Regions from separate parts of the Homo sapiens genome. Here region 2 is linked to region 1. The links come from fine-mapping of genetic effects on gene expression. A gene starts in region 1. The other region holds a variant in brackets. All regions are shown on one strand. Distances are between the middles of the regions.

Region 1 (15,935 bases):
ACTGAAGGGACACACCTCAAAATAATAGGAGCCATCAAGCTCCTATTATTTTTGGGACAAGCCCACAGCCAACATCATACTGAATAGGCAAAAGCTGGAACCATTCCCTTTGAGAACTGGAACAAGAAAAGGATGTCCACTCCCACTACTCCTATTCAACATAATACTAGAAATGCTAGCCAAAGCAATTAGGCAAAAGAAAGAAATAAAGTCATCCAAAAAAGAAAAAGAAGTCAAACTATCTCTCTTTACAGACAATATGATTTTATATTTAAAAAACCCTAAGGACTCTACCAAAAGGCTTCTGGAGGTGACAAACAACTTCAGCAAAGTTTCAGGATGCAGAATCAATGTACAAAAATCAGTAGCATTTCCATACACCAATGTTCAAGCTGAGAGCCAAGTCAAGAACACACTCCCATTTACAATATATACACACACACACAAACCTTAGGAATACATGCAACCAAGGAGGTAAAAGATTTCTATAAGGAGAATGACAAAATACTGCTGAAAGAAATCACAGATGACATAAACAAATGGAGAAACATTCCATGCTTGTGGATTAGAAGAATCAATATTGTTAAAATGGCCATACTGCCCAAAACAATCTACAGATTCAACACTATTCTTATTGAATTACCAATATAATTTTTCACAGAATTAGAAAAAAAATGGCCGGGTGTGGTGGCTCACACCTGTAATTCCAGCACTTTAGGACGCCAAGGTCAGGAGTTTGGGACCAGCCTGGCCAACATGGTGAAACCCCGTCTCTACTAAAAATACAAAAAAATAGCTGGGCTTGATGGTGGGTACCTGTAATCCCAGCTACTCAAGAGGCTGAGGCAGGAGAATTGCTTGAACCCAGGAGGCGGAGGTTGCAGTGAGCCAAGATCACACCATTGCACTCCAGCCCGGGCGACAGTGCGAGACTCTGTCTCAAAAAAAAAAAAAAAAAAAAAGCCAGGGCATCACAATACTATAAGGCATAGTAATCAAAGCAGCATGGTACTGGTACAAAAACAGACACATAGACCAATGGAACAGAATAGAGAACCTATAACTAAAGCCCCACACTTACAACCATCTAATCTTCAACAAAGTTGACAATACAAGCAATGGGGAAAGGACTCCCTATTCAATAACTGGTACTAGGATAACTGGCTAGCCATATACAGAAGAATGAAACTGAAACTATTTCATTCTTTCCCCTACCTTTCACCATATACAAAAATTCACTCAAGACAGATTAAAGATTTAAATGTAAGACCTCAAACCATAAGAATCCTAGATGAAAACCTAGGAAACACTATTCTCGACACTGGCCTTGGCAAATAATTTATGACTAAGTCTTCAAAAGCAATTGCAACAAAAACAGAAACTGACAAGTAGGACCTAATTAAACTAAAGAGCTTCTGCACAGCAGAAGAAACTATCAATAGAATAAACAGACAACCTACAGTATGGGAGAAAATATTCCCAAACTGTGCATCCAACAAAGGCCTAATTTCCAGAATCCATAAAGAACTTAAACAATTGAACAAGCAAAAAACAACCCCATTAAAAATGCATGAAAGACATAGACAGACACTTCTCAAATGAAGACGTACAAGCAGCCAGCAAACATGAAAAAGTGCTCATCATGACTAATCATTAGAGAAATGCAAATCAAAACCACAATGAGATACTACCTCACACCATTCAGAATGACTCTTACTAAAAAGACAAAAACAACAGATATGATGAAGCTGCAGAGAAAAGGAAACATGTATACACTGTTGGTGGGAATGTAAACTAGTTCAGCCACTATGAACAGTAGTTTGGAGATTTCTCAAAGAACTTAAAACAGAACTACCATTTGATGCAGCAATGGCATTACTGGAGATATATATATATATATACACAAATTATTCTACCAAAAAGACACATGCACTTGCATGTTCATCGTAGCACCACTTACAATAAATAGCAAAGACATGGAATCAACCTAGGTGCTCATCAGTGGTGGGTTGAATAAAGAAAATGTGGTACATATATGCCATGAAATACTATACAGCCATAAAAAAGACCCAAATCCTGTCCTTTGCAGCAATATGGATGCAGCTGAAACCCATTATCCTAAGCAAATTAACACAAGAAAAGAAAACCAAATATTGCATGTTCTCACCTGTAAGTGGGAACTAAACATTGGGTACTCATGGATATAAAGATGGCAACATTAGACCCTGGGGATTTCTACAGAGGGCAGGGAGGGAGGGGTCAAGGGTTGAAAAACTAACTACTGGGTACTATGCTCAGTACCTGGGTGATGGAATCATTTGAATCCTAAGCCCAGCATCACGCAATATACCCAGGTAACAAACTTGCACATGTATCCCTGGAATCTAAAATAAAAATTGGAAAGAAAAGGATTTTTTTTTATTATTGCCCAAAGAATACTTTCATATATTATCAGAAGATATTCTCTTTTTTGTATATTGAATTTAAGTCAGAATGATTTAGGTAATGTTTAATGCATTGATCTCTTTTACCTCAAAAAAGTAATACTGTCATAGAAAGCAGAAGGAAATACAAGGAGGTGCTGGAGATTGATAATCTTCTTGGCAGGAGGACACCCAAGTCAGCAGTTTCTTATATAATCCTATAATAATAAAAGCAGTTCAAGAATGGTCCAAAAAAAGAATTAATTGCTTACAATAAGATCAATATCTTTACTTTGGACTAATGTGTACAACATGATTAGGAAAACACTGTAATTTCAACAGGCAAACTTATGAATAAGCAATTCAAGTAAAAGACAATACCTAACAATGGAGAAAATAGTAATCTAAGAAATGCAGAATTTAAAAAAAATTATTAACATTTGCTTTTTTAATTGACAACTTTTTTATTCATTGGTAACATCTATTTCCTTTGAAACAGAAGAGGAAATAGATGAAAACTGAGGGATATTGGTTTTCTCATATTTTGCTGGTAGAAGAGTAAAAACAACTTGTAACAAAGTTATAAGAATGCTCACACACTTTGAATTAGTGATTATGCTTCTAGGGATTAATCCAAAGTAAATTATTCTTACAGTAAATGTGTACAAAACGTCCAAGGCACTACTACTTCTAATGACGAAAGAGCCCAAGTGTCTAACAACGAGATTGTCTACAGAACATCCATATGAGGAAATATTGTGCAACCATTAAAAGGGTTGGTTGTATAGATCAATGTAAAATATGAAGAGGAAGGCAAAATATGCAACATACAATATATATACATCTTTCAACATGAAAAGGGTCTAGAAAAGATCAATACAAGTTATTTAATTATGGAATTAGAAGGATGAGAATAGGAGTGGTTTTGATCACTTCTCTTATTTTATGCAGTTCTATTGATTTTATAATAAAAAGCATGATTATGAAACTATTAAACATTATTGAAATATAAATTATGTGAAAGTTATTTATTTCTTCTTAACACCCTTTACGTTCAGCAATACTGGTTTGATGAAGGGGGTTTTTATAGTCAGAACTGAAGCTCAATGAGTGGTAATGGATTAAGTCAATGCTTCTCACAATGGACAATCCTCCTCCTGACAATCCATAAACTATGCCTGTTCATTTTAGCACGCTTCAGTGGCTTCTCAGACTCTGACTCCTAGGTTAAATCATTCTGCCACCACTCTATGAGTGACAAGGGATTCACACTCACTTGCTCAATTTCCTTCCTTGGCCTTAACAAAAATGACCAAGTGTGTCTTATGGGAGTCAAATTGACCCTCTAGTACATCCTATTCTGGGTTGTAAGTCAATATTGAAAGATTCAAAAGCCCTCTATGTTTTTGTTTTTTCTTTCCGCTTCTATTAGGAAAGAGTAAGACTGTTAAGAAGACCGAAGCATGTATTAATGCTGTGGCTATGAGAGGCCTCCTGCTGCAGAAACACACTTCCCTACATCAAGAAGGAGTAACTTCAGGTTGGATCCTGTGTGGATGATCTTGGTGCTAAGCAGAAAAGAAATTTGGACCTTGAAACCAGCAGTTCAACATATATACTTTTTGCAAAATTTCCTTGATTTAAAATATTTGTTATTTTAAATATACAAAACATTTTAGAAAATCTTAGAGTAAATTTTAGTCTTAAAGCCAGAAAATAAGTTTATAGCCATCTAGATATTTTGCATATTGCTCTTACAGCAATAATGGTTTGGTTCACTTTATGAAAAATAAAATGTATTAAAATATAGTTTAAATGCTGTTCTTGATCCAAGTATTGATTTTTGTCACTCATTGTACTTCACTCATCTCGGTAGCTCTCAGAGAATTATAATAGTGAGGAATGAAAACTGATTCAGACTGAATCAGGCAACTTAGCCCTGAGTGAAACTTTCAGTAATCACTTTATTCACCATTATACTCACAGCAACAAGCACAATGCCTAGTATGTAATTTTAGATAATAGTCTTAACAGTGAAGAATTAGTGCATGCTTTCTGTATGTTAGGCATACAACACATGCCATACAGTTATGATGAACTCATTTTGTAACAATCATATAAGGTAAGTACAATTATTCCCAATTTATGAATGAGTAAACTGAAAATCTTACAACTAGGAAGAGGCAGAGCAGAGATTTGAAAACAAGTTATAACACATATCCCCCTAATATGGTAAGCCCTAAATAGATATCTGAAGAATTAATAAAAATTTAGCTTGCAGTGAGCTGAGATAGCACCACTGCAGTCTGGCCCGGGTGAAAGAGCAAGACTCCATCTCCAAAAAAAAAAAAATATATATTTAAAGATAAGTCTTCAGAGTCAGACTTCCACCTGGGGGTCTAGAAATCTGAATGCTATGCCAAATAACTGGTGGTGGGCACATTTTAGAAGCCAAGTATGGCAACTCCTGTCACAAAAGTGTCCTTGTGGAAAAGACAACTTGGTTTGTTTCTGTTGACAAAGTCAAATCAAACTGCTACCACTTCTCTCCAAAACTAACCTTAACCAGTTTTTTCCCAGTGATAATTACCTGACAGCTGTTAAGTGTTTAAGGAACCCCATTAATGAGTACCCCTCCTCTCCTGAGTTCTGAACCAACTGAAAATTATGATAAAGGGTTAAAGCAGATAGAGATTAAAACATTCACAAGCTCACCATTATTACTGATGGAGCTGACATTAGATAAGGTGGTTGCCTTCTTTTCCCTAGAACTGAAAAGATTGACTGCTGTAGGCATTTGTCATTAAGCTTAATGCATAGCTGAGAACAGTAGAAAATGCAAGATTTCTAAGAGTAAATTTACTCCAAAAAGTATCAAGAAGAAGGGGATTAACACAGAATGTCCAGGCTCTACTTCCAAATACATCAACCAAATAAACCACCGCACTTCAGTAGAACAAATGAGAAAATGAAGATGGGCAGCAATATAAAGGCAATGGAGATTTCAGCCCTTGATCTAGAGCAAGGACCTAGAGAGGGAAGAAGTGTTCTCCACCAACAGTAGCTGTTACTTACAGAGAGCCTAATGTTACTTACAGAGAGCCTAATGTGTCTTCTGATACGCTATTCTGAGTGCTTTTCCCTCATTAGCTTATGCAGTCATCATATGAATTTTGGGAGGTACTTACCATCATTAGTCCCATTTTGCCAAGGAAGTAATGGGGCTTAGAGCACACAAATAAATTGCTCAAAGTCACACAGCTAGGCATGATGACATGGATTTAAATCCTCCAAGCACAATCAGTGTAATGCTTTTTAAGTTATTTAGATTTTATCATGGAAATTTAAGCCATTGAAGAAGTATTGCATACACTCCATTATATTAGTTATTGTCAATGTCATGGACTAGGTTTGTGTACTGGATTGTAAACATCTCCCTGTGGGAAAAGGCCACTACACAAGACACTGGAATATAAAATCCTGGTACCATGCATGATGTATATAACCAGCCTCATCTTCAGGGCATGGTGGGTTGTGTGCCTAGGGCTCTGTTTTTACCTGAAAGAATGTAATGTACAGACTTTGGCTGAGGAAGGTTCTTAGAGCTCACTTTCATTTGGCTCTTCAGAGGAAAGCTGTTTATTTGCTTACAATGCCCAGAATATTGTCTGCTTTTAAAATTTTTATATAAAAGGCTTTCCTTGGTCTGTTGACCCTTGAATATTTTTGTAATTTAGCTTTATTCTTTAACTTTTATAATGCTTAAACCTGGTTTGTACTTTTTCTGCAGATATTTGACTTATCTTCCATGTTCTATATTAGTTTTACTAATGAAAAACAGGAAACTTTGCAAATGAAGAAACATTCTTCCCAAGGGTCATTTATTCTCAGAGAAGTGCTGTCCCACCCTCCTGGTGGTTACAGCTAGGAGAGCATTCCCAGTGAACTGAAAAAGTTCCCATTCTGTTTCTAGGCAATCATCTCTGGATTACCATGGCTCCTGCAAAGCCAATGGAGCTATGTGCTGAAATCTCTTCACCACAAAGCAAAAGTCTAACCCCAACGTTCACCTAGAGAGTTACTGAAACTCTGTTATCTCCTCTTTAAAACAAAATATTTTTTATATGGAATAGCAGCAATTAATAGTTACAGTTTTCAAACACACAACTATCTGACATTAGCTAGGACCACTAATCAGCTCATATTCTGTATCACAAAGTATATAGGTAGAAAGTTCTATTCAGGAAGATTCCTCAGTACTCTCTCACCATGCAGCCTTTGCCCTCTTTTAAAGGGAAGCAGAATAGGGAAGTCTTAACTAAGCTATTTGACTCCTGGTTCTGTAAGAAATCTTAAATAAACCACTTCTTTTCCCAAAATAAAATGCCCCAAAATAATTTTCTTTCTGTATAATTAGTTCTCCTAATTCCCTTCCCTCATTTCACCATTGCCAGAAAGTGACTGGGCTTGGGCTAGGGCTAGGGCTAGAATTATCCCATCTAGGCCTTTGAAACTGCAGGAGTATCTAGAATCACTCTTATCACTCACTCTTACCCTAAAGGTCTCTAACGTGCCTTGTGCTGAGGCCAGCCCAGATTGTGAAAACTGCGTAAGAACTGGGAAGCCTTGACACACTACATGCAAATATACTGCTCCTTATTGACACATTGGAGTGATGTAGACCAGGTTTCAAAGTCAAGCTAAGACGTCTTTCTATGAGTACTTATTAAATAGGACAACAAATAGATATATCCACACCCCGTTTGAACTTATATCTTAGCTCTGTCACTTCCTATTGGGATATCCTTGAGCAAGTCACTTGAGCCTGGTGTTCTCATCTACAACAAAGAGGAAATGGTATTTATTCCACAGAATTCTTACATGAAGAAATTAGAAATTGTATCTAAAGCATTTAACAGAATTACTGGATTATTAGAAAGCTCTCAACAAATACTTATTGTAATTATACTTTTCTATGATCTTCAAAGGATATAGCAAAACAGTCATTGGTCATTAATTCTTTACAGCAATGCCAAAGGATAGGAAAGTAAATTTAAAGATCTCAACCCAAACGTTCTCTGATTTCCCTATCATCTGCTTACAAATATCCAGGCTTTTATTTCCAATTCAACACATACGGTTTCTTACATGTGTTAGAAATGTAGTTTCTTACACGTGTTAGGCACTGGAGTTAAACACTGAGAAGAATAAAGAGTGAATCTATGATTCAAAGATTTGTTATCTGGGCTTCTTTGTGTGGGGGTGTGTTGCTCTACTCATTTACGGAGAGGAGATATATTATTTATAGTCCAGAGTCAGTTTTACAGCAGTAAATCTATTATAAATATCCTGCTCTTTCATGCTACTTTACACAAGTGATTGATAGCTAACACTTCCACAGCTCAGCTTCTCCATCTAGCGGCCTGAGTAAAACAGAAGCTTGAAAGCAATTCCTAACCTTCCCCTAAATTACAATGGGCAGATTGATTTCCAACTCACCCTACCATGGCTCTCTGGACTCAAAGACTCTTTTAGACAATAGTGGAACTAATTAAGCCACACATGGAGCAGCATCCAGGCTGTGTCTGCTCAGGCTGCCCCAACTAGGGTCTAGGATCTGTTCATTCATACTGGTGGGAAGTCAACAATAGCCCTACTCACTGGCTAAGCACCCTGTCCATGTGGTCTCTCTTTCACAATGCTAAGACATTCTGGTCCCCTGCTGCTAGCCTCTAGGTAGTGCAAAATGTGCTGAGGCCACTGAGGAAGGGGCACTTTTAGGTTAGATTGATTGTTTTTCTTTTTTTCTGAAGGTAATAGGGAAGAGAGAGGTTAGTTATAATAGTATACCAAGATTCCTTCCGACTCCCACACATACATACCTCTTTTTCTCGTACACAAAATGGCAGACCACTGGTTGTCATCCCAGATTTTCCATACACAAGGAAGAAGCATTCAATAATTTGGAACACATACTCTATTTTTTATTGTAATTATCCAGCCTGGGAAAGGAAATGGTTTTGAAAGAGGAGAATAGGAGAAACAGACAAGGGTACCCCCAGGTTTCTTAGATCTATATGCTGTGGAAACCTGATTTTCAATATAAGCTTTGTTAAGAATATTCTTTTTTACTTCAATGCTTCATTTAATTTATTGATGGGAGGGTTTTCCTGAATTTCAAATATTTACAGAATAAGAAAATTTACCACCCTAACATCTTTCCTAGAGTCAATTACATGAGGGATTCATGAAAAAAATTAATGGAGCTACTATTGGGGAAATAGAATTAAAAGCAAAATCTCCTGCTATTTCAGAAAACCTCACCACAAAAATAGAAGAGAAAGAAAACACTTTTATTTCTGAATATTCAACCAGAATGTAATGCACACCACAGGCAATCCCCTAAAGAGATTACTAAAACAGAAAGAAATCTTCCCCTTTTATATGCCAAGAAGATATCCTCCACTGCACACATTTTCTCAAGACAAACAATGACTAGTATTCACATAAGAGGACTTGACAGCACCATTTGTCACATAGCGTTTATCTGAAATTATTTTTGTAATATATTTGCTAATTGCCCTTAAAAACTAATTTCTCATTTCTTTTTGGTTGGAGGTAGATTTGCAATTTGGAGTCAGGTGTCAACTGAAGTTAGACTCCAGAAAATTGTATTCTGGAATACTTGAGCATGGAGACTGCACATGGACATTAGGGTGTGTGCTCTGAGATAAACGAAAGCTACAGTGAGAGAACATAACCAATCCCAAAGATAATTTCAAAGAACAATGACAGCAAAGGTTAGGTGGGAGTAGTATTTGACAATGCTTATTTGATATTGTCTCTCAGAGCTGCAAACTAGATTATACAAGTCATTAGCGTCAGATAGCTTTAAAGTTGTGACCTTCCTTTACATGAATTTTCTAGCCAGTTTCCTATCCTTTGCAAGAGGTAACAAAACATGAAACCCTAGAATGTGTGAGTTCAGGCATTAGGTATATAATAAGGAGGCTCTCTGTCCAGGGCTGCTTTCTGTCTTGCAGGGGCTAGTGAGTCTTGTGTGTTTTTATTTTATTCTCACATTTGTGTTTTTTTAGAAAAGTGAATGATCAATAATGGCTTATCTTTTATAATAAAATCTTCCATTTTTAATAAGGTGCTCCTGGAAATCCCTCACAGAGCCAAAAGGAAGTTTGGAGAGCAGCCATAAGGATAAGAATGATGTGAGATGAATCTGGGGTTGCACAGCTAGTACCCTAGTTTCTCTGAAATTGTTTCTTCTAAGCCCACTCCCCATCCTTCTCCTGCCTGTTTTAGATATGACCTTTACATTACTCAAGGACAAGCAATAAAATATTTTGCACTTTGTTTTATTTCTTTCAAGGAACTTCACAAGAGCAGTCCTGTATCTGCTTTTCTTACCATTGAACCTACAGTGCCCAGCACATAGTAGGCACTCGACACATACTTGTTAAAGGAATGAACAAACAGATGAGTGACCAAACTGGAAACAACCATCAAATACAAGGATAATACAAAAATCCATGATTCCTGTCCCGAGATTTCTTTCTTTTTTAACCTTTTGTCTGTTGAGATTCATTTATGTGCAGTGAAGTGCACCCTTATTAGTATACAGTTCTGTGAATTATGAGAAATGCATACAGTCATGTGGGCACTAACACAATCAAGATAAAGAACAACAACAAAAAATTTCCTCCTGTGCTTTGAAAGTCAACACCTCCCCCACCTTTTGCTCCTGGCAACACTAATATGTTTTCTGTTCCTGTGGTTTCACCTTATCTCTAATGTCACAGAAGGTAGGCTTTAAGTCTGGTCTCTTTCACTTAGTGTAATGCATTTGAGATTGATCCAAGTTATTGCATGTATTAATAGTCCACTCCTTTTCAATGATGGTCAGGATTCTGTTGTGTGGATGTAATATAACACAGAGCTTATTTAGCAATTCACTCAATGAAGATCAGTTGGGCTATTTCCAGGGTATTTCGGCTATTATGAGTAAAGCACATATAAAAATTTGTACACACAGTCTTAGAGGACATAAGTTTCACTTGGCTAAATGCCTAGGAGTGAAATTGCCAGGTTGTACAGTAACCCTATGTTCAATTTTATAAGAAATTGCCATACTTCTGAGATGGGAGAGTTCCCTTGACCCCTTCTCGGGACTTGCGACAGGGGTGTGGCCTACTTACTTGGCCACCACCATGCTCAAACTCTCTGTGGGAGCGGGAGCACGCAGGCAAGCGGGTGCCAGGGCTTCGATGAGCACTTTTGGGCTCCAGCCCAACAGCAGCATTTAGGGATGTGTTACAATTCATGCTCTTTTAGCAGTTGCCATCCGTGGACAGCTAAGTGTTAACCCACTCAATGGAGAGTCAGGGTGGCAGCCTTTTACACCCTGCCCTGTTGGTACCCAGGTTCTTGTTCAGCATCCAGGAAGAATCAGGTTGCATGAATGGTTTGAAAGTTGATGGATGTGGACGATTTTATTAAATGGTGGAAGTGGCTCTCAGTGGAAGGGGAGCTGCAAAGGGGATGGTGCAGGAAGAAAGTGACCTTTCCCTGAAGTCTGCTGTCTCTGGCCGGGCTCCTCCCTGAAGTCATGCCACCTGAAGTTAAGCCACATCTCTGACACTCAGTTGCTTCTTCTCCTCTTGATGTTCAGCCGCTTGTCTGTCTGCCAGCTGAGGTCTGGGGTTTATATGGGCACGGGATAGGGGGGCTGGACAGGCTAAAGAGTAACATTTGGGCAGGATAACAGGGATAACTGTTCTCATTTAGGGCTTCGGTTTCAAGGCTTGAGGGTGGGACCTTTGCCAGTGAACCACCCTCTTCTACCCAGTAAAGCCCTGCCTTCTGTCCTTATCACTTCTTTCCAAAAAGGCTGTCATTTTGCATTCTCATCAGCAATGCATGAGACTTCCAGTTGCTTTGCATACCTTGCCATACTTGATATTGTCAGGGTTTTATAGCCATTGTAATAAGTATGTAAAAGTGTTCCATTGTGGATTTGATTTACACTTCCCTAATAACTACAATGTTTAGCATCTTTTAATGTTCATCTGTATAGTTCCTTTGGTGAAATGTCTGTTCAAATATTTTGCCCATTTTGTTACTGGGTGTTTGTTTTCAGATTTGAGAGTTGTTGATACTATATTTTCTACAGGTCTGTGGCTTGACTGTTTTAACCTCCTTCTGACTTTTCTAAGAAGACAACGTGATTTATAAACGTAAATATCTGTAGTGGAAAAACTCCCATGGCCCATCTGTAATTTCAGACCTGGGATTCCCCAGAGGTTCGAAGCTCTCATTGACGGGTAGTTGCTGGTTATGGCCAACAGCCAGGTTGGTTCAGGCACTGACATGTTAGGACATTCTGCACATGCGTGCCTCTAACACTCCTCCCCCAGCCTCTTCCTTCCCTCTGCAGAGACACCCTTCTCCTTTCTGCTGTCTCTGCACGGGTGGCCAGAGCCACACAGCCCTTTCTTTAAGTCAGGAGTTGCCCTGTCAGAGCACAAGGCAAGAAGGAAGTGGTAAAGGGACGGAGGGGAAGCCCTGAGAGGACTGAGAGGATGGGAAATTCTCTGCTGAGAGAAAACAGGTAAGTCTAGACTCCCTGTGGGAGAGCAGAGGAGATGGGACAGGACAATACAGCAAGGAAGAGAAAAAGAAAGCTAGTATACAGTTAGCACACTAAGTTGGGGTAGAAAGTAGTTGGGTAAGGAAACTGCCAAGCCTTCAGTGCCTACTCTGTGCCAGATACCACATTAAATTTCCCATAGGTTTTGCCTTCTCCCAAGAATCATGGTGAGCAGCTGATGGAGAATAGCTGAAAGGTGGAAAGACTTTACCAAGGAAGGTCTATATAATAGGTTACCACCTAAGAAATGAAACAACTTTCTGAAAGCCCGGGAAGGAGATGCTCTCCTGAGCTCCTCATGCTCCACAAGGAGGTCAAAATCACCACCCTCTTTCAGCCACTATTTTAAGTTTGAAATAAACAGCAAGCTTCCTGCCACCTTGAGTCTTCCTTTGATGTGCACTCCCTGCAAGCAGGTAAGCAGAGGTCATCTAGATTAAATAGGCACAGAACTCAGATTTACTTTCTGGACCTCAGCCTCTTTATTTTAAGTAGAAATAATAATACAATATCTACCTTAGAGAGTTCTAGTGTGTATTGTGCTAGCATAGTGCCTGACATAAAGTAGGGTTCAAAATTAGAAGATATTTTCTGCTTTCTTTTTCTGACCATCATCTTCCTTAATATCAAAGCCGTGCCACCAAAATAGTGCCACCACAGACAAGGTAATCTCTAGGGTATAAAGTGGGGTGATCTAGAGAGAGTAAGCGAGCCAGAGGGGGTCTTCACAGGGTTATGTTTGGAATCCCTGGTCTCAGTTCATGCTACTGGAGAGTGGAACACAGGAAAAAATGGTAGCCCACTTTTGACCACTTGCCGAAAAGAGGATTGGTGGTCCTGTGGAATATCTCATGTCCCTTCCTAAGAATCATGTTGTCTGAGACTTCTCTACCCTGGGTTGTCACAGCCCCTTGTCAATCTTCTACTCTAGCATTGTTCTAACAATTATATAAATTACTATTTTTATTACTAGATATGAGATGCTCAAATGTAGTGATTGTTTCTTATTTATCTTTGAATTCCTGGTTCCTGGCATTGTTTCTGGCATATCACGTGCACTGAATAAGTGCAAAAAAACTTTAAAAAAATTTTTTTACTTTAAAATTTTGTTTTATGTAAGAAAAAAAACCTTTTTCCAAGGTGCACACATCTTATGCTATTTGGACTTCTTATGGTTTTTTATTTATTTTAAAGAAAATTCGATTTTAAATCTAGAAAGCTTTTTGGTTTCTGCCATTGCATTCATGCTTAAAATTCTTTGCTCTTCCTAAGATAAGACAAATCAACTCACATAAGTTTTGATTTTGTTATTTTACATTTGGCAACATATATTCAATATATGGTGTCAGATGTAAATTTTTTTCCAAATAGTTGATCAGTTTGCCCAACATCTTTATTTCTATGATGATTTAAAAGGTCTCCCTTGAACCAAGTGCAGTGGCATGCACCTGTAGTCCCAGCTACTCAGGAGGCTGAGGCAGGAGGATTGCTTGAGCCCAGGAGTTTGAGGGCAGCCTGAACAACATAGCAAGACCCAGTCTTAAAAATAAATTCATTAAAATAATTAAATAAAATGTTTCCGTTAACGTATTCAAAAGTCTTGTATATATTGGTATCTAATTTTCATTGTCACCCCAACACCCAGTTATCATCTAGTCAGCATACCCCCCCAACCGTGTCTCTCCAGATCAAATAAGCTAAGAAGTCAGGGAAATTTTGCACAGAATAGAATGGCACTCATCCCTTCATGAGAGGAGCTCAGTCTCAGAGGAAGAGACCTGCCAGCAGCAAACCCAGCTTTTCCCCCTTAGTGGCTGTGGATCCTCAGACCAGTTGCCTAGCATTTTGGGCCTCAGTTTCCTCATTAGTATAAAAAATATAATGATAATATCTATCTTATGGATTTATTCTGGGATTAAATGAAATATAACACACAAAATGATTGGCATATAGTAAGTAGTGTTTAAGTGTTAGTTTCTTTATCCTCATACTCCCAATTCCCAACAAGTGGGAAGATGGGTATACAGAAATCTAACCCAAACAATGAACCAATTTATTTTCTTTATTCAATCCTTTTCTTCTCCTTCTGTCCCTTGTTCTGGGCCTCCATGCTTTCTGTGAAAGATGGTGTGATTTACACAAGACAAAGCCAGTACCTTTCCCCATTACTTGTGCATAGCTCCTGGAACTGCACCAAAGAGATGGTAGCTGAGGACCTCAGGCCTCTCTCTGGACACGGATACTCTCAAGGGTCATGACGAGGATCCCTGGATATTTGGGATCAGATGATTTAGGATCACTTGTTCATGGAGGTTGGAGAACATCAGTGGGCTGTTGCTGTGGCAATGGAGAGCATGTCAGATCAAAGGTAGCTTGCGACATGTGCTTGAGGAAACAGTATTAACATGTGTGAGGGCAACCAGTCAATTTCTGAGTTACACACAAATAGCAGAAATGAGGAAAGTCGGAAAAATTATGAAAAGAAGTGACAGGCCTGTTTAGGAAATACTTAGCCTGTTTCTGATATGTTGAGTTTCAGGCGGCAGCAGAACACTCAAGAGATGCCTTGGAATGTGAGAATGCAAAGCCCCAAACAGAGAACATCCAGGTGAGAGCAAAATCAACCAAACACCCCCCAGACCTTGCCCAAGGAGAACGAAGTATGTCAAGCCCTGGACTTCACATCCCAGTGAGAGAGGGCCCTGTTTAGACCAGTAGCAGTTGCAATAGTAACAAATGTGAAGACAGGACAAAAGATAAAATGCTTGAAAACTTTGGACAGGAGATATGCTACTTTGCTAGAAGCCTAATGTAACTCCTAGCAACAGGAACTAAGACCCTGCTAGTCCCTGTTATGCCCTGTTATAAAATAAAAGGTCTTATTTCCTGTTGTCATTTTGTTTGTCTATCTCAGGTACCTTTGTGCTCAACCTCCACCCTAGCCATTTTATTTTAAGCTATAGGTGTCTATTTCTGAAGTGACCACATGCCCCATGTTACGACAATTTTTAGAAAGTTTGTGGAGACACCATTGTGATTGCCCTGATGTTGTTAAACAAAGACCACCTCATTAATTCTTTTTGAACAGACCTTTCAAATGTCCAGCCCTAAAGAATTCTCTCTAAGGAAAGGAATAATTAAAATATGGAACTAATGTTCCAGGATCCAAGAATCCTAAGGGCTGACAAGGTCAGTTTTTCTGTGGCCTGTAAAGTTATCTGTGCTTTTCACATGGTTTCAGGAGGAGATTTTGAAAGAGGAGCAATTAAAAAACAAGCACTGTTGTTATTTTCTAACACCAATGCCCGCGTTAGGGGCTGGAGACCCAGAGATTCCTTTCAACAGGGTGAATTTTTTCAGTTCAAGTTGAGAATTACATATTTTCAGGGGTATCATTGGGCATATTTTAAGGCATACAGTTCAAATGATGAAATAAATCAGAAGGGCCACGGCATTATAACAAGGGAGAGGTTGGGTAGACCAGAGAGCCAGAGAAGGCATTGTGAAAGAGACAGATACCTCAAATTCCTGACACGTAGCCTAAGGGTATAGAGATTTGTCTAGCTTGCTTCTTGGAGGCTATCTGAACCCATCCCAAACCAAAACCACCATGTTGAAATGCAAGAATAAACTGCAGAAAAGTCAAGTAGGAGAAACAGCCAGCTTACAGATCGTTTTTGCCCATATTTAACCTCAGCTTATTCTTATAACTCCATGTGTAAGCAGTATATACATCCTCTTTTATAGATTTAAAAACTGTGGCCTCAGGAGTTCAGAGAATATCTCTCAAAATCATCCCCCTCCTCTTATCTCATTCATTTCTCCTCAGTGAATCTGGTTTGTTAACTTGG
Region 2 (15,935 bases), 61 kb after region 1:
ACACTAAGGATTCAGAATAAGTTAGGAAGAGGTGTTTCTCCCTAGAGGTACAACCAAGTTTAGATTAAACGAGTCTGATGAAAGTCAAGAATTTGTGAATGAGGAACCAAACTCTACCTAGATTTGTTTTTGTAATTCCTTCAGAATTCATTTACATAAGGGTGGCTTTTTAAATATACTATTATTTCAAAAATAGATTTCTTTAATATAATTTAAAATTATTATTGACTCAATTGCTTTAGTTTGTTTGAAGTGTCTAATTTAAGTAACATTAAAAAATTAAAACATACTTATATTTGCTGACCAATATAAGATTTTTGATGTTGCTTTTTTTTAATAGTACTTGCTCTTCTTTTTAAATCCTTTTTAGAAGCAAATAATTTTCTAAATGGTTATCATATAAACTGAAAAACAAAGTAACATCATCAGAGTGATATCACCAATACACCAAAGGCATCTCATTCCCTTCAAATAGGTCTGTGACTCTGGAATACGCAACAGTTTGTTCCTGTGTGTTGTCAGATGGCAAGCAATACTACTCCGAACGTCAGCAACTGGGTCAGCCACTCAAGCTAATCAAGTAGAAAACAATTGAGAAATGGTTGCTTGTGGTGCTTCACTGTGCTATTTTCAAGGCACTGTGAAAGAAGGCATGAGTCCCTACAAGTTCTCCCTGATAATATGGCACGTGAAATGCTTCTGTCTTAATTTATGAAGGCCATTTTGCTCTGCTAACAAAACCATTCTTGGGACTTGCCTTACTTCACACCTTTGCAAGAATGAAGTGGATATTCCCACATCATTCAGGTTCTAAATGCATCTTAACATGCAATATCCAAGCAAGTTATGTTTGTTTTTCAACCTTTTCCCTGCCCCAGCACTGCTACAGCATATCGTGTACTCACTTTAATACCAGTGAGGGCCTATAGAGGTAGTACATACATGTGCTTTCAAAAACTCCCTCTGATGAATCTGATGGATCATGCCAGCCCTCCTCCATCCCCTAACCGAGATCACAGACTTATGCAAAGGTTTTCATGTATTTTGTGAAGAGCAATTCTATGCCCTAGAAATGACCATAAAGTAAAAAGTACAACTCACCTTGTATATAGGTCACAGCCATCCAGACAAAATAATGTAGATTATAAGAACTATCAGCCTAATTCGCTCTTCTATCCAGTGGATTCAGTAGCAAAGTCCTCCCTTTTGAATTAGTGGTACACTTGGCCCTCTGAATTGCACTATCGTATAGCCAGTTTACTGAAACCTTTGGGGCCCATTCATAGAGGTATTATTAAGATGCTTTATCCTTAATCTGAGGGAACAGTCTTTTAACAAATCAAAGTATATTCTATGAACTGAAAAATTTATCTGGCCTGGGAGATGACACCTTTTGCTCTCTCTCCTTTTGCTGTTACATTAAGATTTTCTAAGGTTCTGTGCATTATTCTATTAATAGACACTACCTGATGTTAGTATTTTTATTACTTCTTTGACTTTATAACAGGAAAACAAATAATATCACTCTTTTTTCTGTTGTTTTCACTCATTTGGTGGTACTATCAATTCTGGCTTCTGTTAATGAAAAGAATATTCTGAGATCAAGTATGAAACCTTCTAAATCAAGATAAAATAAATCAAGAACTAAGATACATTGAGAGTGTGCTATAGGCTTACAACTATGTAAGGTATTATAAGAGTCTGAAAGTAAAAGAAAGTCTCATCCACTGGGGTTTTAAAAAGAACCAAAAGCCAGATGATAATATTTCTGAAAAATTTCACTTTTGCAACAATCATTCAAAAATTTCTTTGCCTTTTTTTTGCTGACCAGCATTACAACAATTTCTTTGAATCTCATATACATGCTTTCGATTCAATTACCATGATGCTTTATTCTGCCATTTAGTAATGGTTGCTGTCAGTTTTGTTGGTTGGTTGATTGGTTTCTCTGTACACAACATTACCATGTGCCATGGCTGAAGATGGTCCACTATGATATGTTTAGATAAAATTGGTTTGTAAAGCAACAATATAGGTACTTATTCTGTCGATAACTGAGTTTTGCTTCATTTGCATTTGCAAAGGAGATATTTTGTGCATTTAGTTTCTTGAAAATGCTGAAGGTCAGGTATGTTTTTTACTGGAATTTCTTATTTTAATAAGTCAAATTTGCTGTAATTTTTATAAGTATCTGAACATGAATAGGGACATAAAATAGGGATGCCTGAACATCTCCCTTATTTTTTTATTTTATTTTAGAGGCTTGGTTCATAACATTACTTTAGGTTTCTTCCATCTCTGAATCAATAGCCTTTTGTACTTAAGAATGAATATAGTTATTTCCTTGGGAAAACTTTTTATGGAACACATATTAACCTGTCTTTCAATAAGTATTAAATGTATGTAATTTGACACTTCCAGTTGAAAAAAAGTAAGGGACTAATTTTATTATTAAATGTATGCAATTTGACATTTCTAGTTAAAAAAATGTAAGGGACTCATTTTATTAGTAATTATTGCATCATTTTATTTATTTATTTATTTATTTATTTATTTATTTATTTATTGAGATGGAGTCTCACTCTGTCACCCAGGCTGGAGTGCAGTGGCTGATCTCGCCTCACTGCAAGCTCCGCCTCCCGGGTTCATGCCATTCTCCTGCCTCAGCCTCCCGAGTAGCTGGGACTACAGGCACCTGCCACCACGCCCGGCTAATTTTTTTTTTTTTTTTTTTTCAGTAGAGACAGGGTTTCACCATGTTAGCCAGGATGGTCTTGACCTCCTGACCTCGTGATCTGCCCGCCTCGGCCTCCCAACGTGCTGGGATTACAGGTGTGAGCCAGCGCACCCAGCCAATTACTGCATCATTTTAAAGTATCTATTTTTAACATAAATCACAGTAAAAATACAACTGGTACAATTACAAAAGAGAAGGGACATATTTATGAATCCAGGGAACAAAGTTTGACACCCTTGTGTAAACACCAGGAAAGTTTGGTCGTCCACTTCCATGTCCCCAGCTAACAATGCCAGTCAAAATCCATTTTCCATCACTTTTTCTTCGACAAGATAAAGGTCCACCCGAATCTCCCTACACACACAAAAAATGTAAGTATAAAGTAAATTGGTCCCATGATCATCAGTTTCATCTTTATTGTATCTAATGAATTGTGTTCAAGAGTCCTCTAATGACATGTTTTTGCTTGGCTAATCACTCTGTAATTTGGGAAGTGTGAAAAACTAATGTGAAACTTCTATCATTTTATAATTATTCTTCCTATAATCAAACAGCTGCATTCATTAGACGAAACATGATTCTTTAGGCTAAGAATAACACTGGAAGATTCTTACTGGAGAAAACAACTCTCACATAGCCCTAAACAAAGAATAAACCTCAGTAATACTAGTGGTGATGGTGGTGGTGGTGGTGGTAATAGTAGTAGTAGTAGTAGTGGTGGTAGTAGTAGTAGTAGTAGTGAGGGCTAAAATTTATTTAGTGCTAGCTATGTGCTAAGAATCGTTTAGAGACATTTAATCCTCACAACAACCTTATGAGGCATGGTTATCTTGGAAGGTTGACTTCTATCTCTGGGCCATGCAACTTTAGTGGTTAGCTCATAGCCCCATGGAGAAGAAGAGACCTGTTTAGTTAGCCAGGTCCAGTGAAAAAACCCTAACAACTGCTGGTCCACAGTCATCACAAACAAATCACTCTCACTTGAGAGTCCTTTCTGATATCTCAATTCCTCTAAGCAAAGGCTTAAACAATTCAAAGTATAAACATAATTTCCACAGTATTAGTCCTTTAAATTATAATATCTAGGTTTTATTTTCCTATTTTAGAGGGTAGATAATCTTGCAACTTACTCAGAGGCAACAAATTTGCCCATGTATCCAAATTATGATCTTATACCTGATTAGGAAAATTCCAACTAGTAGGGAAGCTGGGCTCTTTATTTTAATTGCCACCACATCAACTCTACTAAGTTTAACAAGTAAACACTTGTGGCTGTGTGGAACAGGGCTGTGTAACCGACTAGCTATGGGAAGCACCCAAAATAGAGTACCCTTAGCATTAGAGAGGCAAGGGTTCAAATCCCAGCTCAGACATTTACACTTACTAGCTGTATGACCTTAGGCAATTTACTTACCCTCTCTGTGCCCAGTTTCCTCTTCTATAAAATGAGGAAAAAAGAATGATTGGAATGAATTTATGTAAAGAACCTAGCACGGTGCTTGCCACAAAATAGGAGCTCAGAAGACAGAAGTCATTATTATAGGATGAGTTTTTGTGGCATCATGGCTAAGCTTGTGGAAAGATGAAAGAACAGCTCCCACTGTCCTACTCACCCTCTAAATCAGGAGTATGCAATCTTTTGGCTTCCCTGAGCCACACTGGAAGAAGAATTGTCTCAGGCCACACATAAAATGTACGAACACTAATGATAACTAATGAGCTAAAAAAAATTGCAAAAAAAAATCTCATGATGTTTTCAGAAAGTTTGTGAATTTGTGTTGGGCTGCATTCAAAGCTGTCCTGGGCTGCATGTGGCCTGTGGGCCGTGGGTTGGACAAGTTTGCTCTAAATCATCTATTTACTCTTTGGCAATCATGTAGGTAACTGCATAGATTGGAATCTCAGGCTCCGAGAAATGTCACCCCAAAGGTGACTTCCAACTTTACCACTGCCAGGGGCCTACCCAGAGAACTACAAATGAGTATTCTTTGTCACCTCTCCATTCCTCTCCTCTTTCCACCAGCATATACTTCAAAGGAATGAGTAAATAAAATCCTTCAAATTTTAGAAATTAAATGGCAGCTGCTAAGGAAATAGGAAATAAATTGGTTATAAGAAAATTATGGCAGAATGATGAATGCTGACCTCATCCTCTAAATATTGAAGGAAAATACATGGAGCACATTATAGAAAACTGCGTTCTATAGAATAAATTATTTCAACACCTCTCCAAGATCTTAGGCAATTGGATGATAAATAATATCTGAGCAGCTCAAGTGAATTCAGGGAAATACCTGCCCTGGTTATTTCCCAGTGTTATGTAGATTAAGTGAGAAAGCATTTATGGAAAGCACAACATGTTAGGCAAGGGAAAGGTACAATGACTTACTTTGCAGGCATCTCTCTTGCCTGACATTATGCCTGCACAGAGCATCCGAGAAGTGATGATCCCGTAGGTGGAAACACAGAGCGTTTGATCAATGAGCTCTACCTCCGCTTGCTGCAGAACGAGGGAGCCTTTATTATCTGCAAAACACATTGGAAGTAGAAATGATGTTAGTGGTAATGGCCGCATGTATTCAGGACTTCATTTGAAAAGTTAACACACATTATCTCCTTTTACCCTCATAGCGGCAATTCCCTTGAGGTAAATTCTACTATTATCCTCATTTTGCTGATGAAGAAATCGAGTGCTAGGAGATTAAAGGGCTTGCCCAGTGACACACCACTAGCAAGTAACACAAGATTCAGACCCAAGGTCTGACTCAATTACTTGAACAACTGTGCCATATTCCTCACCATTTCCCTCCTGTTTTCCGTAGGATGGTAAGTCAGCAACAGTTATTACTAATATCTACTATTCAAGAGAGCTCTTTAAATGGAGCAGCATAACTGATATATGGGAGTCTCTGATGAACCATAAAAACCTAACAGTTTGCAAATAGCTGTTTCACTTCCTTTTGAACCTACCTGGCTAAGATGATTCAGAAAAATAAGTGTACACACACATACCCAGGCTTATAAAGAAAACATCTCATGATAAGTTGGTTGGGCAGATGCTTTTCTCCTGTGATATATGATAATGTAATCAAAGCACTGAGCACAGTAACCTATCAAAGTTACAAGTGTTCACAGTCAGCTGCCTTCCCTCCTTGGGACCCTGAGACTTCAGTGGACCCAAGCTGGTGGTATTACTACTTCAATCACTAAATGAAAGCACTGAGAAGCTGCCTTTGAGAAGTTGCCCACACTTTAGAGTGTCAAAACGAGGCTACAGGGCAAGGTTCAGGAATTACAGATGCTGTACGTGTCCTAAACCCTTGAAAAGGATGGCAAAAGAAGGTGAGGTGATTGAAAGATCAAGGGAAAATATTAGCACTAGCGTTTGGGGATACATTCACAAAGCATTGGATTCTTCCCCTCACTATATATTCAGAATCCCACCTTGAATCCTGGACCATGAAAAACCTTGGCAGGGTAGATGTAGGGACTTCCCTACTATACAGCCTGATCTTTATGCATATTGAAAAGATGTCCTCTCCCGTCAGAGAAATAGCAAAAAGGTATCTCCTCTGGGTGGACCAAATCCAAATCCTGGAGGTATAACCTCCAGGCCTGAGTTTCTGGTCTGGAAACTAAGGGCAGTCTGAAGTTCAGCCCTTACTCTCATCCCTTGGCCAATTGCACAGGCACAGGTCATACCCACATAGTCTCCCAGACTGTTGCCTATGAGTTGACATAGTGGGATGTGCATGTGTGTCCTTCTCTCCTTTATAAATGAATCATTTCTTTGAATGAAAAGGGAGGAATTGCTCCTTCTCTAGTGAATAACATAGCATAACCTTCAGAGTTTGAAAAGGGCCCATGACTATCTAGTCAATCCTGCCTTGCTCATACACAGTCCTCTCCCTCTTTATAAGGTGAGCCCTGCTTCTTTTAAAGCAGGTGGATAGCATCATTAAAAAGAAATAACAGTACCCTCCTCCAATCCAACCTTCCAGAGTTGTCAGGAGGTTCAAAGGAGATCATATACACAAACCCTCTCTGTGAACCCTAAAGCACTACATAAACACCTTATCATCCTCTGCAGGGGAAGGGCATGACCATTCATTCATACACACACCTGCTTCGTGTCTTCGCCCCCAGCCAGTTACCCAGCACTTCTCCCCACTGCGAACTCTCTGACCAGTGGGAGGAATGCATATTGGCTGAATGAGCTGTTTCAGGGTCTCAGGCCAGGCAATACTGAGCTGTAGCAAAGCAATATCATAATCAAAAGTCTGACTGTTATAGTACTCGTGGACCACAATTCTTCTCACCGGGGAGACAAACTTGGCATTCCCCTGAACATACATCCCGAGGTGTGCAGTCCATGGTGTGGGATCTGACAGCCTGATAGAACAGTAATGAAACATAAAGTTAGCAGCTTAAAGAACCACATACAGTTTGCAAACAAGCACTCTAAAGAGTTGAGGGCTGAAAAAGAAGGGCCTGACTTCCAGGGTGTTATTATAGTCACTGGCTTTGTCCGGGGACCATGGCAGAAAGCGTAACTGTGAGCCTCCCTTGTCTCCCTCAAAAAGTCAGAAATGACGTAAGCTGTATTAGGAGTGGCAAGTAATAGAAAATTCACTCAACAGTGTCCTAAGCAAATGCCTGGACATTTTCTTTCCACTAGTATTTCATGAACCACACACAGGTCAAGAATGTTGGTAACTAGAATTAATTTGTTACATTCTTCCTATTCATGCTGACAATGGCATTTGATGGAGAATCCTACTACCAAATTCAAATGATATGAATACCAAGATAGATTAGAAATCAAAGTGCTATAAGCAGGAATTTAATGAAATTCCTTCTGGCAAACTACTGGAAGCCTTAATGATCACTACTCTTACTGCTCAACAATGCCCATTCATAGGGTCACCAACTGCCATTCCCATCAGTCCTTCCAGAATCCCAATCTTGACCTCCATGACCTTGCACAAGTCACAGAAGAACTTGTAATCTCCATGTGAAGCGTCCATCTCCATCAGCATAGCAGTGGGGTAAAGAGTGGGAGTGAAAAAAATGAGGAAGCCCCAAAATTTTGGTCACTAATTTGCTTAGCTGATGTCTCATGAGTGTCAATGGACACCCAAAGAAATATTAGGGTTAATACATTATTTGGAGCAGTTTCACAGCATTAGAGACTCATGATCAAACAGATGTGAAGCTATCTTAATAATTAACACAAATCCTATAATTTTCAGGGAAACAAATATCCAAACTGTGTAACTTCATTGAAATACTAAAAAAAAAATGCAGAATGAGAAGTGAATGATTTTTTTAACCTAAGATTCAGTAGATTCCAATAGTAAGTTTAAATTTTAAGTGAGGTTATTTTCTAAGATGTCCTCTTACCCTTGGCTGGAAGAGCATCTATCCCATCATAATCCCATTGGGGACCTCCATTCTCCAGTCACTCTCCAGTGCCCATTTTTCTCCACATTCTCCACACATTCTCTTAAGTTTGCTCCCTCTGAGTTAAAAGCCCTATCTTATTTTCCCAGCCTTAGTAAAAGCCTATTCATTCTTGATGTTTCCTTTGTGCTTTTTTTATACCAATAATACCTTAAAAAAAAATGTTTGTCACACACGTGGGATCCAAAAAATGAAAGTGCAATTGAATTGATTGAATGTCCCCAACAGGGATCTGCTTCCCACAATTTGAGGGCAGATATATTGTCTATGGCCACAGAGTGCCACTTGAAAGTAAGGACCGTGAGGCCCTACCTGTTTCCATGAAAACAGTGGGCTGCAGAAAGAAGCCACTCCCTGGAGATGACTGAGGCACCACAGTAGGCAGATCCAACAAAGTGGAGGCTGACCTGCCACGGCCAACCCCCCTCCAGGGTGTCTGTGCCTCCGATGATGCGGTGAAGGGCGGAGGAACTCCTGCTGCAGGCTTTGGTGGAGAAAGGGCATGTGATTTAAAGGTAGACTTGGAAGAAAAACTAGAAGTTAAGCCAGTTTTAGTGCTGGCTGGGAACTGACTCACTAGGTAGCAATTTGAAATCTCCTTATCTAGAGGACAGAGAACATGTGAGTCTGTCTGAAACCAATACAAACAAACCACTCCCTCCTTCCTGAAGCATGCCCTGACACAGTCTCTATA[C/T]CACAACGCAGATGAGAGGAGGAGGGGGACCTGCTGTAACAGCTGAACTGACACAAACAGCTGCCTATGGATTTAGATTGTCAGGTAAAGAGGAATGTAAATGAATTGAGAATTTCTTTGAAGTTGTGCTGATGTGACAGAAAGGATTGGGGAAAAGATTTATAAGACCTGGACAAATGAAAACCTACAGGGAAAACTAGTTATCAGAGCAATTGTTTGCTAGTGTAAATAGTATTGGTAAAGATGTATAATTTACATGTTGCCACATGGCCAAGTAGTAGCCACATGACTAATAGGAGCATGTGGGAGATTAGTTATTGAGTCAGGCCTAAAGAAACAGCACTTGATATTGTTAGTAACATAAGGCATTAACAGGTCATCCACTGCGTTCCAGTTTCTATTTATTTTCTCACAAGGTTTTTATTTAAGATCTTCTCCCTTGATTAAAATTATTAAAAAGTGAAAGTTCTCATTTTAAAAATTTAATTCATTAATGCTGTTATCAAGAAGACAGAATCCATTCCAGAGTTTTTATTTCTGAGAAACAATTTCAGACTCAGTTTGTCAATAGTTACTATTCTTGTTTTGGCTATGGCAACCTCGATCAAGGGAAATACACCAAGAAGGGAATGAAAATATAACAAACAGGTAAACTGAAGAGGGAATACAGGAACCCAAAGGAATGAATTTCTACTTACTGCAGCCTTCTTCATCACTTCCATCTGGACAATCCACTGTCCCATCACATTTTGCATTTTGTTTCCTAAAGCAAATATCATTGCCACACTTAAAAGTTCTGTTGTTGCATGGAATACCTAACAATGGACAAAAGAAGAAACAGCTTTCCTTAGCCAGAAACAAACTTGAGTGAATGAGATTTGAATGAATAACTCCAAACCCCATAAAAAATGGTTTAATCACAGGATTGGTATTTGCTGCTCTGGGATAAATGGCAGAGAGAAGAGAAGCAACCTCACAGTGATCCATTTCTTCACCTAAGAAAAGCCATTTGAACGCTGGCAGGCATATTTGTTGAGAATCAATCCAACCACCTCTTCTTTCTCCCATAGCAGGTGAGACATGAAGAAGTGCGACATATCAGTGGCTTTAGGCTGCAGCCTCTTTGCTATTACCTTCTCTTATTCTCCAAGAAAACTTTTGAGCAAAAATCACAGCCATGCTCAGTTATTTTATATCAGTAGGAGGCAAAATGGACAGACTTGTGAATTACAACACATTTGTTCACAACCTTGGAGGTTTGTTTCTTCAAGGGTGAGAGTGGAACGTGTTCCATTCCAGTATTTGGCAAGTTCCTCTACATCAGGTCCTCTGTATCCTACAATCCTGAGCATCATTAAAAGCAAGTAAGCAATAAGAAACTGCCAGTATTACAAAAGAAACTACCATCAGAGTGAACAGGCAACCTACAGAATGGGAGAAAATTTTTGCAATCTACACATCTGACAAAGGGCTAATCTCCAGAATCTACAAAGAACTCAAACAAATTTACAAGAAAAAAACAGACAACCCCATCAAAAAGTGGGCAAAGGATATGAACAGACACTTCTCAAAAGAAGACATTTATGCAGCCAACAGACACATGAAAAAATGCTCATCATCACTGGTCATCAGAGAAATGCAAATCAAAACCACAATGAGATACCGTCTCACCGCAGTTAGAATGGTGATCATTAAAAAGTCTAGAAAAGGCCAGGCGCGTAATTACAGGTGGCTCCTGCCTGTAATCCCAGCACTTTGGGAGGCTGAGGCGGGTGGATTGCCTGAGGTCAGGAGTTCGAGATCAGTGTGGCCAACATGGTGAAACCCCATCTCTACTAAAAATACAAAAAAAATAGCTGGGCATGGTGGTGTGCACCAGTAATCCCAGCTACTCGGGAGGCTGAGGCAGGGGAATTGCTTGAACCCGGGAGGTGGAAGTTGCAGTGAGCCCAGACTGTGCCACTGCACTCCAGCCTGGGCAACAGAGCAAGATTCTGTCTCAAAAAAAAAAAAAAAAAAAAGTCAGGAAACAACAGATGCTGGAGAGGACATGGAGAAATAGGGACACTTTTACACTGTTGGCGGGAGTGTAAATTAGTTCAACCATTGTGCAAGATGGTATGGTGATTCCTCAGGGATCTAGAACTAGAAATACCATTTGACCCAGCAATCCCATTACTGGGTATATACCCAAAGGATTATAAATCTTGCTACTATAAAGACACATGCACACGTATGTCTATTGCAGCACTATTCACAATAGCAAAGATTTGGAACCAACCCAAATGTCCATAAATGATAGACTGGATTAAGCAAATGTGGCACATATGCCTGGCTTGGCAGGTCCCACGTCCACAGAGCCTTGTTCACTGCTAGCGCAGCAGTCTGAGATCCAACTGCCAGGCGGCAGCCTGGCTGAGGGAGGGGCGTCCGCCATTGCTGAGGCTTGAGTAGGTAAACAAAGCAGCCAGGAAGCTCAAACTGGGTGGAGCCCACTGCAGCTCAGCAAGGCCTACTGCCCCTATAGACTCCACCTCTGTGGGCAGGGCATAGCTGAACCAAAGGCAGCAGACAACTTCTGAAGACTTAAACGTTCCACTCTGACAGCTCTAAAGAGAGCAGTGCTTCTCCTGGCATGGCATTTGAGCTCTAAGAACAGACAGACTGCCTCCTCAAGTGGGTCCCTGACCCCTGTGTAGCCTAACTGGGAGACACCTCCCAGTAGGGGCCAAGAGACACCTCATATAGGCGGGTGCCCCTCTGGGACGAAGCTTCCAGAGGAAGGATCAGGCAGCAATATTTGCTGCTCTGCAATATTTGCTGTTCTGCAGCCTCCACTGGTGATACCCAGGAAAACAGCATCTGGAGTAGACCTCTAGCAAACTCCAACAGACCTGCAGCTGAGGGACCTGACTGTTAGAAGCAAAACTAACAAACAGAAAGGAACAGCATCAACATCAACAAAAGGGACATCTACACCAAAACCCCATCTGTAAGTCACCAACATCAAAGACCGAAGGTAGATAAAACCACAAAGATGGGGAGAAACCAGAGCAGAAAAGCTGAAAATTCTAAAAACCAGAGCGCCTCTTCTCCTTCAAAGGAATGCAGCTCCTCACCAGCAACGGAACAAAGCTGGAGGAGAATTACTTTGACAAGTTGACAGAAGTAGGCTTCAGAAGGTAGGTAATAACAAACTTCGCTGAGCTAAAGGAGATGTTCAAACCCATCACAAGGAAGCTAAAAACCTTGAAAAAAGATTAGACAAATGGCTAACTAGAATAAACAGTGTAGAAAAGACCTTAAATGACCTGATGGAGCTGAAAACTATGGCACGAGAACTACGTGACACATGCACAAGCTTCAGTAGCTGATTCCATCAAGTGGAAGAAAGGGTATCAGTGACTGAAGATCAAATTAATGAAATGAAGTGAGAAAAGAAGTTTAGAGAAGAAAGAGTAAAAAGAAATGAACAAGGTCTCCAAGAAATATGCGACTATGTGAAAGGACCAAATCTACATTTGATTGGTGTACCTGAAAGTGATGGGGAGAATGGAACCAAGTTGGAAAACACTCTGCAGGATATTATCCATGAGAACTTCCCCAACCTTACATGGCAGGCCAACATTCAAATTCAGGAAATACAGAGAACACCACAAAGATACTCCTTGAAAAGAGCAACCCCAAGACACATAATTGTCAGATTTGCCAAGGTTGAAATGAAGGAAAAAATGTTAAGGGCAGCCAAAGACAAAGGTCAGGTTACCCACAAAGGGAAGCCCATCAAACTAACAGCGGATCTCTCGGCAGAAACCCTACAAGCCAGAAAAGAATGGGGGCCAATATTCAACATTCTTAAAGAAAAGAATTTTCAACCCAGAATTTCATATCCAGCCAAACTAAGCTTCATAAGTGAAGGAGAAATAAAATCCTTTACAGACAAGCAAATGCTGAGAGATTTTGTCACCACTAGGCCTGCCTTACAAGAGCTCCTGAAGGAAGCACTAAACATGGAAAGGGACAACTGGTACCAGCCACTGCAAAAACATGTCAAATTGTAAAGGTCATCGATGCTATGAAGAAATTGCATCAACTAACGGGCAAAATGACCAGCTAACATCATAATGACAGGATAAAATTCACACATAACAATATTAACCTTAAATGTAAATGGGCTAAATGCCCCAGTTAAAAGACACAGACTGGCAAACTGGATAAAGAATGACAAGTTAACAGGTGCAGCACACCAACATGGCACATGTATACATATGTAACAAACCTGCACGTTGTGCACACGCACCCTAGAACTTAAAGTATAATAATAATAATAATAAAAGAGTCAAGACCCATCAGTGTGCTGTATTCAGGAGACCCATCTCATGTACAGAGACAGACATAGGCTCAAAATAAAGGGTTGGAGGAAGATCTACCAAGCAAATGAAAAGCAAAAAAAAGCAGAGGTTGCAATCCTAGTTTCTAATAAAACAGACATTAAACCAACAAAGATCAAAAGAGACAAAGAGGGCCATTACATAATGGTAAAGGGATCAATTAAACAAGAAGAGCTAACTATCCTAAATATATATGCACCCAATACAGGAGCACCCAGATTCATAAAGCAAGTCTTTAGAGACCTACAAAGAGACTTAGACTCCCACACAATAATAATGGGAGACTTTAACACCCACTGTCAATATTAGACAGATCAACAAGACAGAAGGTTAACAAAGATATCCAGGACTTGAACTCAGCTCTGCACCAAGTGGACCTAATAGACATCTACAGAACTCTCTACCCCAAATCAACAGAATATACATTCTTATCAGCACCACATCACACTTATCTAAAATTGACCACATAATTGGAAGTAAAGCACTCCTCAACAAATGTAAAAGAACAGAAATCACAACAAACTGTCTCTCATAGACCACAGTGCAATCAAATTAAATCTCAGGATTAAAAAACTCATTCAAAACTGCACAACTTCATGGAAACTGCATAACCTGCTCCTGAATGACTAGTGGGTAAATAACGAAATGAAGGCAGAAATAAAGATGTTCTTTGAAACTAATGAGAACAAAGATGCAATGTACCAGAATCTCTGGGACACATTTAAAGCGGTGTGTAGAGGGAAATTTGTTGCACTAAACACCCACAAGAGAAAGCAGGAAAGATCTAAAATCAACACCATAACATCACAATTAAAAGAACTAGGGAAGCAAGAGCAAACAAATTCAAAAGCTAGCAGAAGGCAAGAAATAACTAAGATCAGAGCAGAACTGAAAGAGATAGAGACACAAAAAACCCTTCAAAAAAAAATCAATGAATCTGAGAGCTGGTTTTTTGAAATGATCAACAAAATTGATAGACCGCTAGCAAGATTAATAAAGAAGAAAAGAGAGAAGAATCAAATAGACTCAATAAAAAATGATAAAGGGGATATCACCACCAATCCCACAGAAATACAAACTGCATCAGAGAATACTATAAACACCTCTATGCAAATAAACTAGAAAATCTAGAAGAAATGGATAAATTCCTGGACACATATACCCTCCCAAGACTAAACCAGGAAGAAGTTGAATCTCTGAATAGACCAATAACAGGCTCTGAAATTGAGGCAATACTTAATAGCCTACCAACCAAAAAAATTCCAGGACCAGACAGATTCACAGCCAAATTCTATCAGAGGCACAAAGAGGAGCTGGTAACATTCCTTCTGAAACTATTCCAATCAATAGAAAAAGAGGGAATCCTCCCTAACTTATTTTATGAGGCCAGCATCATCCTGATACCAAAGCCTGGCAGAGACACAACAAAAAAAGAGAATTTTAGACCAATACCCCAGATGAACATTGATGCAAAAATCCTCAATAAAACACACTGGCAAACCAAATCCAGCAGCACATCAAAAAGCTTATCCACCATGATCAAGTGGGCTTCATCTTTGGGACACAAGGCTGGTTCAACATACACAAATCACTAAACATAATCCATCATGTAAACAGAACCAATGACAAAAACCACGTGATTATCTCAACAGATGCAGAAAAGGCCTTTGACAAAATTCAACAGCCCTTCATGCTAAAAACTATCAATGAACTAGGTATTGATGGAATGTATTTCAAAATAATAAGAGCTATTTATGACAAACCCACAGCCAATATCATACTGAATGGGCAAAAATTGGAAGCATTCCCTTTGAAAACTGGCCCAAGACAAAGATGTGCCCTCTCACCACTCCTATTCAACATAGTGTTGGAAGTTCTGGCCAGGGCAATCAGGCAGAAGAAAGAAGTAAAGGGTATTCGATTAGGAAAAGAGGAAGTCAAATTGCCCCTATTTGCAGATGACATGATTGTATATTTAGAAAACCCCATCATCTCAGCCCAAAATCTCCTTAAGCTGATAAGCAATTTCAGCAGTCTCAGGATATAAAATCAATGTACAAAAATCACAAGCGTTCTTACACACCAATAACAGGCAAACAGAGAGCCAAATCATGGGAGAACTCCCATTCACAATTGCTACAAAGAGAATAAAATACCTAGGAATCCAGCTTACAAGGGATGTGAAGGACTTCTTCAAGGAGAACTACAAACCACTGCTCAACAAAATGAAAGTGGACACAAACAAATGGAAGAACATTCCATGCTCATGGATAGGAAGAATCCATATCATGAAAATGGCCATACTGCCGAAGCTAATTTATAGATTCAATGCCATCTCCATCAAGCTACCAATGACTTTCTTCGCAGAACTGGAAAACACTACTTTAAGTTCATATGGAACCAAAAAAGAGCCTGCATTGCCAAGACAATCCTAAGCCAAAAGAACAAAGTTGGGGGCATCACGCTACCTGATTTCAAATTATACTACAAGGCTACAGTAACCAAAACAGCATGGTGCTGGTACCAAAACAGATATATAGAGCAATGGAACAGAACAGAGACCTCAGAAATAACACCACACATGTACAACCATCTGATCTTTGACAAACCTGACAAAAACAAGAAATGGAGAAAGGATTCCCTATTTAAT

Evidence for each region. PIP is the estimated chance that this variant, and not a neighbour inherited with it, causes the effect. A credible set is the group of variants that fine-mapping cannot tell apart.
Region 2: its variant is the best candidate, but not a certain one, in a credible set for the expression of GCSAM in whole blood (INTERVAL, PIP 0.80).

The regions. Positions count from the first base shown.
Region 1 is chr3:112,129,202-112,145,136 of GRCh38, reverse strand. It overlaps GCSAM (germinal center associated signaling and motility), which reads left to right and starts at 11,889. Exons shown (of 6, transcript NM_152785.5): 1 at 11,889-12,045; 2 at 14,624-14,692. The coding sequence starts at 12,017. TBILA (TGF-beta induced lncRNA) reads right to left here and starts at 11,714. Exons shown (of 1, transcript NR_157393.1): 1 at 9,778-11,714. It overlaps SLC9C1 (solute carrier family 9 member C1), which reads left to right. Exons shown (of 29, transcript NM_183061.3): 29 at 3,856-4,239. The coding sequence ends at 3,865. It also overlaps a transcript of C3orf52 not described here. RefSeq lists enhancers at 7,531-8,049, 8,050-8,569, 11,564-11,743, 12,224-12,283.
Region 2 is chr3:112,068,070-112,084,004 of GRCh38, reverse strand. It overlaps TMPRSS7 (transmembrane serine protease 7), which reads right to left. Exons shown (of 18, transcript NM_001395507.1): 14 at 9,593-9,709; 15 at 8,513-8,684; 16 at 6,861-7,129; 17 at 5,127-5,263; 18 at 2,736-3,091. The coding sequence ends at 2,921. Among named protein-coding and RNA genes, the nearest start is that of C3orf52, 10 kb to the left of the region's middle. The variant C/T (reference allele first, on the strand shown) is at 8,895.